2 separate regions of the Homo sapiens genome follow, and region 2 is linked to region 1. The links come from fine-mapping of genetic effects on gene expression. A gene starts in region 1. The other region holds a variant in brackets. All regions are shown on one strand. Distances are between the middles of the regions. Region 1 holds the start of PDZRN4 (PDZ domain containing ring finger 4). Region 2 has its middle 190 kb from the start of GXYLT1.

What was found. PIP is the estimated chance that this variant, and not a neighbour inherited with it, causes the effect. A credible set is the group of variants that fine-mapping cannot tell apart.
Region 2: its variant is the best candidate, but not a certain one, in a credible set for the expression of PDZRN4 in aorta (GTEx, PIP 0.62).

What each region holds. Positions count from the first base shown.
Region 1 is chr12:41,185,741-41,191,127 of GRCh38, forward strand. It overlaps PDZRN4 (PDZ domain containing ring finger 4), which reads left to right and starts at 2,580. Exons shown (of 10, transcript NM_001164595.2): 1 at 2,580-3,363. The coding sequence starts at 2,716. LOC124903069 (a long non-coding RNA gene) reads right to left here and starts at 2,492. Exons shown (of 2, transcript XR_007063563.1): 1 at 2,061-2,492; 2 at 1-1,590.
Region 2 is chr12:41,953,735-41,959,121 of GRCh38, forward strand. No RefSeq gene overlaps it. Among named protein-coding and RNA genes, the nearest start is that of GXYLT1, 190 kb to the right of the region's middle. The variant C/CA (reference allele first, on the strand shown) is at 2,840.

The DNA.
Region 1 (5,387 bases):
AGTGGGTTTCCTTTCAGCTCTTCCCCAAGTGTTAGTATTCAGCCTGCAATTTTCACTATCCAGGGATGTTTAGATGATAGACAATTATGATCAGTGAAAACATAAGAGTATGCCCAAGCTAAAGATGCAAGGTGTTAATTTGTCTAATTTGCCAAAAAGCATCTAAATATTACTGGGTCTGTTTTGCTGAAATATTTGTGCATATATTAAACTCATTTAAAGTGCTTTCTTTGTTTACCCAAGCTAATTACTTCCATTTAATTAGGCTCCATATTCCTAGCTCACTCAAGCTTTTCACTGATATTACAATTTTGCTAATATGTAGAAAAATATTTTACAGTCTGGGAAGTGAAACGAGACTATCTGACTCAACTGATGTCACAGACTTATGCCACAATGTTTCCAGATGGCAAAAGTTTATGAGGTTCACTTGGGTGTGTCCATTCTCTTAGAGTTCAATTCTTGTCATGTTTTTTCTTTATACTTAGCTCTTTTGGAAATGCTTAGGCTTTTATTTTATTACGTAAAAGATTTTCCTGTTCTGTTTGGCCTATTTCATTACTCAGTTTCACTTTACATGCCCTCATTTTGGAACTTCCTATTCTCTGTGGACAACGTTTTTGACATCTGCTTTACTTTAATAATAAAAATGTTATGCATCCTGGAATTAGTCATAACATAATTTGCTCATGCTCCTTACTTTTGCTATAGGAATTGCATGGGTATACCAAGGATATCATATGAACTTTTTTTTTTTCCAAGTAACTGAAGTCTCATGGTCCTAACAGTCTCATGTCTCAAAATAATATTTTTGGATTCCATCTCTTCTCTCTCTTTTTAAAAATGCTGTCAGTGTCATTGTGTTTACTGTAAAACCAATAAATGTCAAGCTATAGCTATAACTGTATATGCATGGTTATAATTATAAATGTTTATAGCTGTAAGTCACAACTTTTTCTATAGCTAAAAAAAGGAATAGATTTCTCCTGCCCAGAAGTATTTTAATAAATTCTAGAACATGTATTTCCAGTTTATGCAATTCACAAAAATATTTTCATGCTGTTAATATTAAATGATTTCTTATTTAATCAGTAATTCATTGTTTGCTTATTTATTTGTAGAAAGACAGGTCGAAAGAGGGGGGAAATTTGGAACATAGGGGCAAATGTTACTTTATCACATATGAATCTATATATATTAAATGAGAAATATAGCATCTTATTTTGAAAAAGAGTTTAAAAGCATATCAAACATCTAGCACACCAATCATCACTGGTTATTGAACAACTAACAAAATCTCATCTTTCAAACAGCAAGAAGGCTCAGAAGGTTATTAGCCTCTATTATTAGTCTTTGCTAATTCTTCAGTTAGCTCCAAGGATTTAAAAGACAAAGTCTGGAGCTGTTCTCATCAATTCCAACTGATGCCATTTGGTGTCATAGAGAATTACAAGCTTTCCAGGAACAAGGCTCAACTGGCAGCAAGGAATCATCAATGATTAATTTATAAAACCCACCCAAGCATCTGGTGGCAGCTTCAGGATAATGGCAGTAAGTGATATGCAGCCAGGTGACAGGATCTCTGCATTCCTAAGGTTCAGAAGATGGTAAAGGAAGTGGAGTAAGAAGGGTTTGGAATGACGCCCTACTGCGTGTTTTCAGGACGGCTTGTCATGCTACACAATTTGAGGAGTCAAACTAGGAGGGGAGGCAATTTGGATCCAAAGGGTTCATTCAGGGTAAGTAGAAGGAAGCAGCCACTAAGATTTTATTTATATGTTATTTCACTGCTTTCTTTCATCATCCTTCCCTTTAATTTTCCCTTCCAGGTTCCCAAATGATCACATTCCCGTCCCCAGTAGTAAAACGCCCGTGGAAGTAGAAGATGGATGCTGTGGCAACTGAACCTGGAGTCAGACTCAGAATCCCAGCTTCCTCACTCGGGAGGAGGCCTTGCATGGCTGTTCATGGGCTCCCTAAGAAGGCAGTGTCCTGAGGCGGGCCCTTGACTTTTTCCCCATCTTTGCTGCTAGGTCAAGGATCGCGCCATTCTAACTCACCTGATTTCTGGATCACGGTTTGAGAAGCCTGGCCCTGTGGATTTCCTAGTGTTATTTTCCTTATAGTGATTTCCTAAGGTCACAGTTTCCTAACTTCTGATTTTGTAGTTTTGATGTGAAAGAACAAAAGTGCTTCGATTTCAAACATATTGGAGATAGACTCGACGCCGGGCGGGCCATGGGCATTCAGCGGAAAACCAGACAGACAAAAAGATTCTGCTCTCCCGAAGCTTACATTGTGGTGAATTTAAAAGTTGTTTCTCAACATTAGCGCTTTACCCATCAGCAGCCCTGCCCAGGGCGAGGCGCCTCGATGCTTGAAGTTCACTGTTCAGGCGAAGGAGAACACAGTGTTCCCAAGGACCATTGTAAGCTGGGCGGCCAAAATTTGAAAGAACATAAATCGCAGGGCAACGAAGGAGGCGGGGGTCTCTGGAGGTTACTTCTATTAGCGTCAATACGGGCGAAATCAGGGGACCTAGCAGGAGCCTGAAAACTTCAAGCCAAACAAACAGTGAGATCACACCTCCCACCCGCCACCTCCCTCCACTGCCGCCGCCGCGAGACGGCTGCCCCGGGGGTGGCCCGGGGAAGGCAGGGGGGCTCGGAGAAGACGGACTCTGCTTTCGCTCCCCCTTTCTTCCCCATCCCTAACATGGGCTTTGCCCTGGAGCGCTTCGCAGAAGCCGTGGACCCGGCTCTGGAGTGCAAACTGTGCGGCCAGGTGCTTGAAGAGCCCCTGTGCACGCCGTGCGGGCACGTCTTCTGCGCCAGCTGCCTGTTGCCCTGGGCGGTGCGGAGGCGCCGGTGCCCGCTGCAGTGCCAGCCCTTGGCGCCCGGCGAGCTGTACCGGGTGCTGCCGCTGCGCAGCCTCATCCAGAAGCTGCGAGTCCAGTGCGACTACCGCGCCCGCGGCTGCGGCCACTCGGTCAGGCTGCACGAGCTGGAGGCGCACGTCGAGCACTGCGACTTCGGCCCTGCCCGCCGGCTCCGCAGCCGCGGGGGCTGCGCTTCGGGGCTGGGCGGTGGTGAGGTGCCCGCGCGGGGGGGCTGCGGTCCGACACCCAGGGCTGGCCGGGGCGGGGGCGCGCGCGGGGGGCCGCCGGGCGGCCGCTGGGGCCGCGGGCGGGGACCCGGGCCTCGGGTCCTCGCCTGGAGGCGGCGCGAGAAGGCGCTGCTGGCGCAGCTCTGGGCGCTGCAGGGCGAGGTGCAGCTCACGGCGCGCAGGTACCAGGAGAAGTTCACCCAATACATGGCTCACGTCCGCAACTTCGTCGGCGACCTCGGTGGCGGCCACCGCAGGGTAAGCAAAGGGGGGTGGGCACCGCGGGCATGGTCGATTGGGGTGGGAAAAGGAGCGGTTCTTTCTGACGCTTCAGGATTCCTTTGGAATTGGGCATCCTTCCTCACTATGCAGCAGGAAACATCCACACCCTGATCATACTTTCCTGTCATTATCTTACGAATGGATTGGCGTCGAAGTTAAGGATTGTCCCTTTTCTGATTATATTACGATTGGAAAGAGTTAAACAGATTCGATTCTAACTTTCCCCCGGGAAAGTAGGAATTGTGAAAACTCATTTTCCATCCAGACTCTCGTTTTCCATCTTTCACCCTCCTGCCCACCGTCTCTGCCTATTTTTTGAGCACTTGTCCCGTGCCTGAAGCAAATCCGAGAAGGAAAGACAGAAAGCGAAGACTTTCCCGGCCCAGCCTTTCCTCTCCCGCGGCCACCAGCATCCCCGCGGCCCTGGCAGCCGCGCACGCACACCTGGGACTGGTGTCAGCGTTGATGACACTTGCGCTGCCACTGCCTGAATCAACTGCCTTCTATTAAGTTGGGGACTGTGAGGCACGTTGGGGCCAGGACAGCCTCAGGAGTTGAGAGATGGGGTTTCTTAGACTTGCAGAGTTCATTTCATCACTCTGACTTTCCCTAAATAAGCCTTCCTTGCCTCGGGATCTCATTATTGGTGGAGAGAGAGAGAGAGATTGAGATTGTGTGTGTGCGACCTGGGAAGTCCAGTCCGAGAACCTCCATCTGTGGTCAGACCGGCCCTGCGAGCCCCCAGGCAGCGGTTGTTTCCCTTCTTTGTCTAAGCTGCTGGCCCCGAACTGCGCTCCTGGTCCTCCCGCCGGCTTTCATACCGAATAAACAAGCCTCTTTGCAGCATCCCGTGTGAAGAGGCTTGTTTATAAAGCTGTTACTTCTCTCCTGGAGGACTTCTGCACAGTGTCTGACATTGTTGGTCGCTGCCATGGTGAGCAGGGATTTAGCAGAATTTGCGCACCATTCAAGGAGCTGTTTTCATTCTTCAGCACTCCCGGGGAGGAGCAACCCAGAAAGATTCCCATTTGGGACTGGCTGCTCCACACTGCCTCTAACTCAGGCACTGAGTTTAGAAGCGCCCGTCTTGAACGTAAAAGAGAAAATTGAAGTGAGAGGGACTAAAATGTTTCTACCTTGATGAATGGAAGCACGTTGTGTATTAAACGACCGGTTTCAAGGAGTATTTCTCTAGTTCATATATGCATATACATATACGCATATATACAGGTAAATTTACAAAACGGGAGGACCCGGGGAAAAGCACAGATAGAAGCTTTGTATTACCAGTCCAGGTTTCAAGGTCGTAGGAAACCAATGGTTGAAGGAAAGGAGGAACAGCTAGAATAATATTACAGAAAAGTCCATGCAACAAGTCAAGCTATGATTCTGAGAAGTGAGAAAAACTGCCCATGATTTGCAGACTAGCCAAAACCTTCTATGTGTTCCTCAGAAGTGTTTTTCTACTACCAGTAGGGGCTGCTCTGCGCATTGCCTGGGAAAAGCTCCTGGGAAAATATCTTGATGCTGATAGCAGTGATGATGATGCATATGTTCTGAATGTTATCATTCAGAAATAGTTTCCAAGTAAAGGTTAATAACATCTACAACCATGAATAAACCCACCTAGTCCAGCACTAATTCATCCTATGTGTAAGTTAGTCTTTACTAATAAACATTGTAGCTATAATTCATATTTGTTTTACTATTATTTGGCCAGCAGGAAAAAATACATACTACTTTACCTAGCACAAACCCTTATTTTTTTATTCTGCAGGAATTATGCAAAACCAAATAGGAATATTATTTAAAATTAGGACTACAGTAGCCTAACAGATCCTGCATTACAACAGCAACATGAATGTTATGACTATAATTTATAAATAGTTCCAGTGTTTCTTAAATTCCTTAAGACTTTACAAAATAAAAATTTTACACTATTGATAATTTATATTTTACTTTTCTGTAATGGAGGGAAAAATAAAGATACCTCCAAGGTT
Region 2 (5,387 bases), 770 kb after region 1:
ACCCAGCCCTTACCTGCCTTCCTCCTCTCACCTTCCTGCTCACCTATTAAAAAGGAAAACAACCTAATTAAGTTAATCGTATGAGCTGAATAAATTAATTATACTAATAGAGGAAAGACCTGTAAGGTTTTACTTGACAATGTACTAAAAAACAAACAGGAAAAAAAAGACTGCTTAAATCCTGGACTAATTTTTAGAAGTAAAGAGAATATGTCTAAGAAGATTGTGGATGGTAAAGCATTTTAAAATCATTTTACAGAATAAAAAACAAGTTTAGTCTAAAATGTGTCTAGTTCAAAGGAGAAAAGGTTTGTAGGTCAAGAAAATACAGCATGGTATCTACTAGTCTCACAAACTCAGGACTTGAGCTAGCTCCTAATACCTAAATAGGATTTGATGAGGACTAGGGGTTAGGGAGGGCACCACAGGCAAGGGACCAACATATATCAAACAGCAGAAAGCTTCTTGGTGGAATTCTCTTGCCACATACAAGGAAGATGAGGCTTCTATTTCCCTTATATACTACTCTGAGGTATATCACGTTCAAATTACTGAAAAGAAAAGAAAAAGAAAAAATCTTGAAGGAACCAGAGAAGAAAAAGACATGTTACATACAGAGGAACAAAGATAAGAATTGTAGCCAACTTCTCATCGGAAACCGTACAAAACAGAAGACAAGGGGGTGACATCTTTAAAGTGCTGGAAATTTTTAAATGCCAACCAGAATTCTACACCCAGCAAAAGTCTCCTTCAAAAATGAAGGAGAAATACTTTCTCAGATAAATAAAAACTGAGGGAAGCCATTGCCTGCATACTTAACTCTATGAGAAGTACTGAAGGAAGTATGATATCTGTCTTAGTCTGTTCAGGCTGCCATAACAAAATACTACAGACTACGTGGCATAAACAACATTGATTTATTTTCTCACCGTTCTGGAGGTTAGAAGTTTGTGATGAGGATGCCGGCATGTTCTGGATCTGGAGAGGTCCATCTCCCTGGCTTGCAGACGGCTGCCTTCTTGCTGTGTCCTCACATGGTAAAGAGAAGAAAGCAGACTCTCTGGGGTCTCTTTTTATAAGACAGCAATCTTACCAGACCAGGGCCCCACCCTCATGATCTGATTACCTCCCAAAGACCCCATCTCCAAATATTATCACATTGGGGGTTAAGGCTTCAACATATGAACTTCATGGGACACGAACATTCAGTCCATAAAAATATCAGACTGAAACCTCAATCTACATTAAAAAACAAAAAGAAAAAAAAGAAAATAGGCCGGGCACGGTGGCTCACACCTGTAATCCCAGGACTTTGGGAGGCCGAGGCGGGTGGATCACGAGGTCAGGAGATCAAGACCATCCTGGCTAACACGGTGAAACCCCGTCTCTACTAAAAATACAAAAAATTAGCCAGGCGTGGTGGCGGGCACCTGTAGTCCCCGATATTCAGGAGGCTGAGGCAGGACAATGGCATGAACCTGGGAGGCGGAGCTTGCAGTGAGCCGAGATCATGCCACTGCCCTCCAGCCTGGGCAACAGAGCTAGACTCCGTCTCAAAAAAAAAAAAAAAAAGAAAATGAAGAGCACTGGAAATAGAATACATGAAGCTCCAGCAGAATGGGGAACATTACCTAGTTTTTCACTGCCAGGTCTCCAATAGTTGGAACAGTATCTAGGATGTGGTCAGAAGTATTTAGAATAAATACTTCTAAATGAGTGAATGAATATCAGAATAAGTGAACATATGCCTGATGAATTGATGTGGATTTTGAGGAATCTAAATGATGATCAGTAGCTCAGTGGTATGATGATAATCTCATTTAGGCAACCAATTTTATACTGGGTCTCATAAAAATTAATTCCCAGAGTTTTTAGTTTCAGATCAGCAGGATTCCATTCTTTTCTAGCATTCTTTTATAGTAAGACAATTTCTCTCACTACAATTGCTTTAGCAATCCTGCTAAATAAGAGCAGAGTTTCATGTAAATATGAAAATGAGCATTCAGATTTAGAAATAATTATGTAGAGCTACACTATAAAAATGCTGAAAGAAGCACAGTTAAATTGTAGAGGAATTGAAAATGAAATATAAAAATATATACATACTCTATGATTCCACTTAAAAAGCAAACTAATCTATAGTAAAACAAATGTGTAAATTAGTTTATTCTGGAAAAATTGACTAGAAAGGGGTGCAAGTGAACTTTTTGGAATGATTTTTTAAATGTCTATATCTTCATAGGAATGCAGGACATCCAGGTGCATGCATTTGTCAAAACTCAGCAAATCGGACTCCAGATTTATGCCTGTGATTGTATACAATTTTTATCCTCAAAATAATTATAAATAAAGATTGAACTCTAGTACATAGGTTTACTTTTGGCAATAGTATGAGTTAAGAATTCTAGCACTAGTTTCTAAGTCTGAATAAATTAGTAAATATTTTGGATAGTGGCAGCCAGGTTTTTCACTGTTGGAGATGAAAGTTACAAATATGGAAAGGGGAAGGCTGCAATAAAAAGCCTATGATGTTGAGTTGGAATTGGAGGTATGAGAAATAACCCAGGATTTCTAACACATAGATGATAAGTAGAAGAGAAATAACTATAAATATGTGTGTGTGCATGTGTGTTTCCTAGCTGTGTACACTGAGAGCTACTTACACTAGAAGTAAATTGCACTCCGGTATTAACACCTGCCAGAGCTTGGTTTTTATTTAGCATTCTCCCCTAAAAAGAACCAAAGCTCTGTGGGAAAAAAAAGATTGATTTCAGGGTTATGGCAGAATAAGTACAAAATGAGCCTGGAACATCTTGTGCGAGAAAATACAAAAGTGTTC[C/CA]AAAAAAAATGATGGAAACATGCCCAAAAGACACAAAAGCCAGCTTCAGATTTCCACTGACCACATGCAAGACATTTAAAGCAACAAAATAAATAGTGATAGTAATGAATTATGACTCATTGACTAAAATAAGAATCCATGAGTCCATACTGATAAAAATAAATAATTAGTTAGATTAATGGAGGACAAGGGAAAACATTTTCTGACAGTAGAATGCTAATGCATATAAAATAAAGGATGGGTGTTAGAAAATCACTAACGAATGCTAAAATTGGTAAGCAAACCAATTTGATGAAGAGCAAGATATGTACAAAATCTCAAAGCATCTCCCCATAAATTACTTATTAATTATAAAGAAAAAATAGTAACTTTCATTGGAAAAATCTTGCAGACGTCATCTTAAGCAAGTGATAAAGTTTAACAATACTGAAATTGGAACAAATCAACATCATAGGCATCCCAATACAATAATGCACTGAGAAAGACACAACAAACATCACTTCTTTGTTGTTGTTGTTTGTTTGTTTGTTTTGTTTTGTTTTGTTTTGTTTTGTTTTGTTTTGTTTTAAACTGAGTCCCTCTCTGTCGCCCAGGCTGGAGTGCAGTGGCACGTTCTCAGCTCACTGTAACCTCCACTACTGGGTTCAAGCAATTCTCTTGCCTCAGCCTCCCGAGCAGCTGGGATTATAGGCACACACCACCGTGCCCAGCTAATTTTTTTGTATTTTTAGTAGAGACAGTGTTTCACCATGTTAGCCAGGCTGGTCTCAAACTCCTGACCTCAGGTGATCTGCCCGCCTCGGCTTCCCAAAGTGCTGGGATTACAGGCGTGAGTCAGCGTGCCTGGCCCACAACATCACCTATATGGTTTTCTTGCCACACATCTGTAACCCAAATCTAAGCATAAGGAAATATCACACAAGTCAATTGAGCAATATTCTACAAAATAACTGGCCTGTACTATGCAAAATTTCAAAGTCAAAAACACAAAGGCTGAAGAATTGTTCCAGACTGAATGACAGTAAAGAGACATGACAATTAAAAATAATGAGTGATCCTAGACTGATCTTGGAGAATGGACAATATTTGAATATGGACTGTCGATTAAATCATTGTACTGTGTCAATGTTACAACTCTTGATTTTGATCATTATACCGTGGTTATTGTCAGAGGTTTCCTTGTTCAAAGGAAAGACACACTACCACATATAATCTTAAAGGAACATGATGTATCTGAGGTCTTATAACTTACTCTGAAGTGGTGCAGGAAAAAAATTCTATCTATATTTTATATACACACATATATGTATGTAAAATACTCCATTTACCCTGATTTGGTCACTACACATTATATGCCTGTATCACAACAGCACACACTGTGGATGTGGATTAAATCATTGCACTGTGGATTACACACATATATGTATATAATTATATACACAGAATTATAAAGCAAGTGGAGAAAAATATGCGTGTATAAACTTGGCAAATGTGGATAAAAGGTATATAGAAGTTCCTTGTACTATTCTTGTGAATTTTCTGTAAGCTCAAATTATATCAAAATAGAAACCTTTTTTTTTAAAAAAAATGAAAGGGAATATTTAAGGATATAGCAAGAACCTTCAATTCTGAACAATGTCATTAGGATCATGTGACTAATAACATCCAGAATCCCTCACTCAGCTTCATAGAGTGTCAGTATAGAAGGTTGTAAGCTTTTATTTTCCCTGGAAGTCATAAATCTATAATCTTTTTTTGCAAGACAAATATGTAATGAATGTGTAAACTATGCAATAATCCTTCCTTTTAAAACATGTATTTTTAGTTATTATAGGTACATAATAGTTGTATGTATTTGTTGGGTGCATGTGCTGTTTTGATACAGGCATACAATGTGTAATGATCAAATCAGAGCCATTGAGGTGTCTATCACCTCAAGCATTTATCATTTCTCTATGTTAAGAACATTCCAATTCCATTATTTTAGTTATTTTAAAATATACAATAAATTATTGTTAACTGTAGTCACCCTGTTGTGCTACCAAATACTGGATCTTATTCCTTCTATCTAACTGTACTTATTTAATAAGAAGAAATCATTTCTTTCAGACCCTCGGTTACAAACCTTCATGGAAGGAGCAGGATATCTACCATTGTTGAAGACCTACCATGTGGGAGGGAACACAGTAAAGGCTCACGCTGTGGAAACTGTAGACCCAGGTGTGAAGCCCCCTCAGTTCCTTACTATGTAGCATCAACAAGTCACTTAACCTCTCTGATTTCTCATCGATAAAATGGAAATAAGAGTGTCATCTAACTAAGTTGAGTGAAGAGTAAAAATAATATATGTAAGGCTGGGTGCAGTGGCTCACACCCATAATCCCAGAACTCTGGGATCCTGAGGCAGGAGAATTGCTTGAGCTCAGGAGTTCAAGACCAGCTTGGGAAGCATGGTGAAACCCTGCCTGTACAAAAAATTTAAAAATTAGCCAGGAGTGGTGGTGCACACCTGTAGTCCCAGCTACTCAGGAGACTGTGGTAGGAGGAT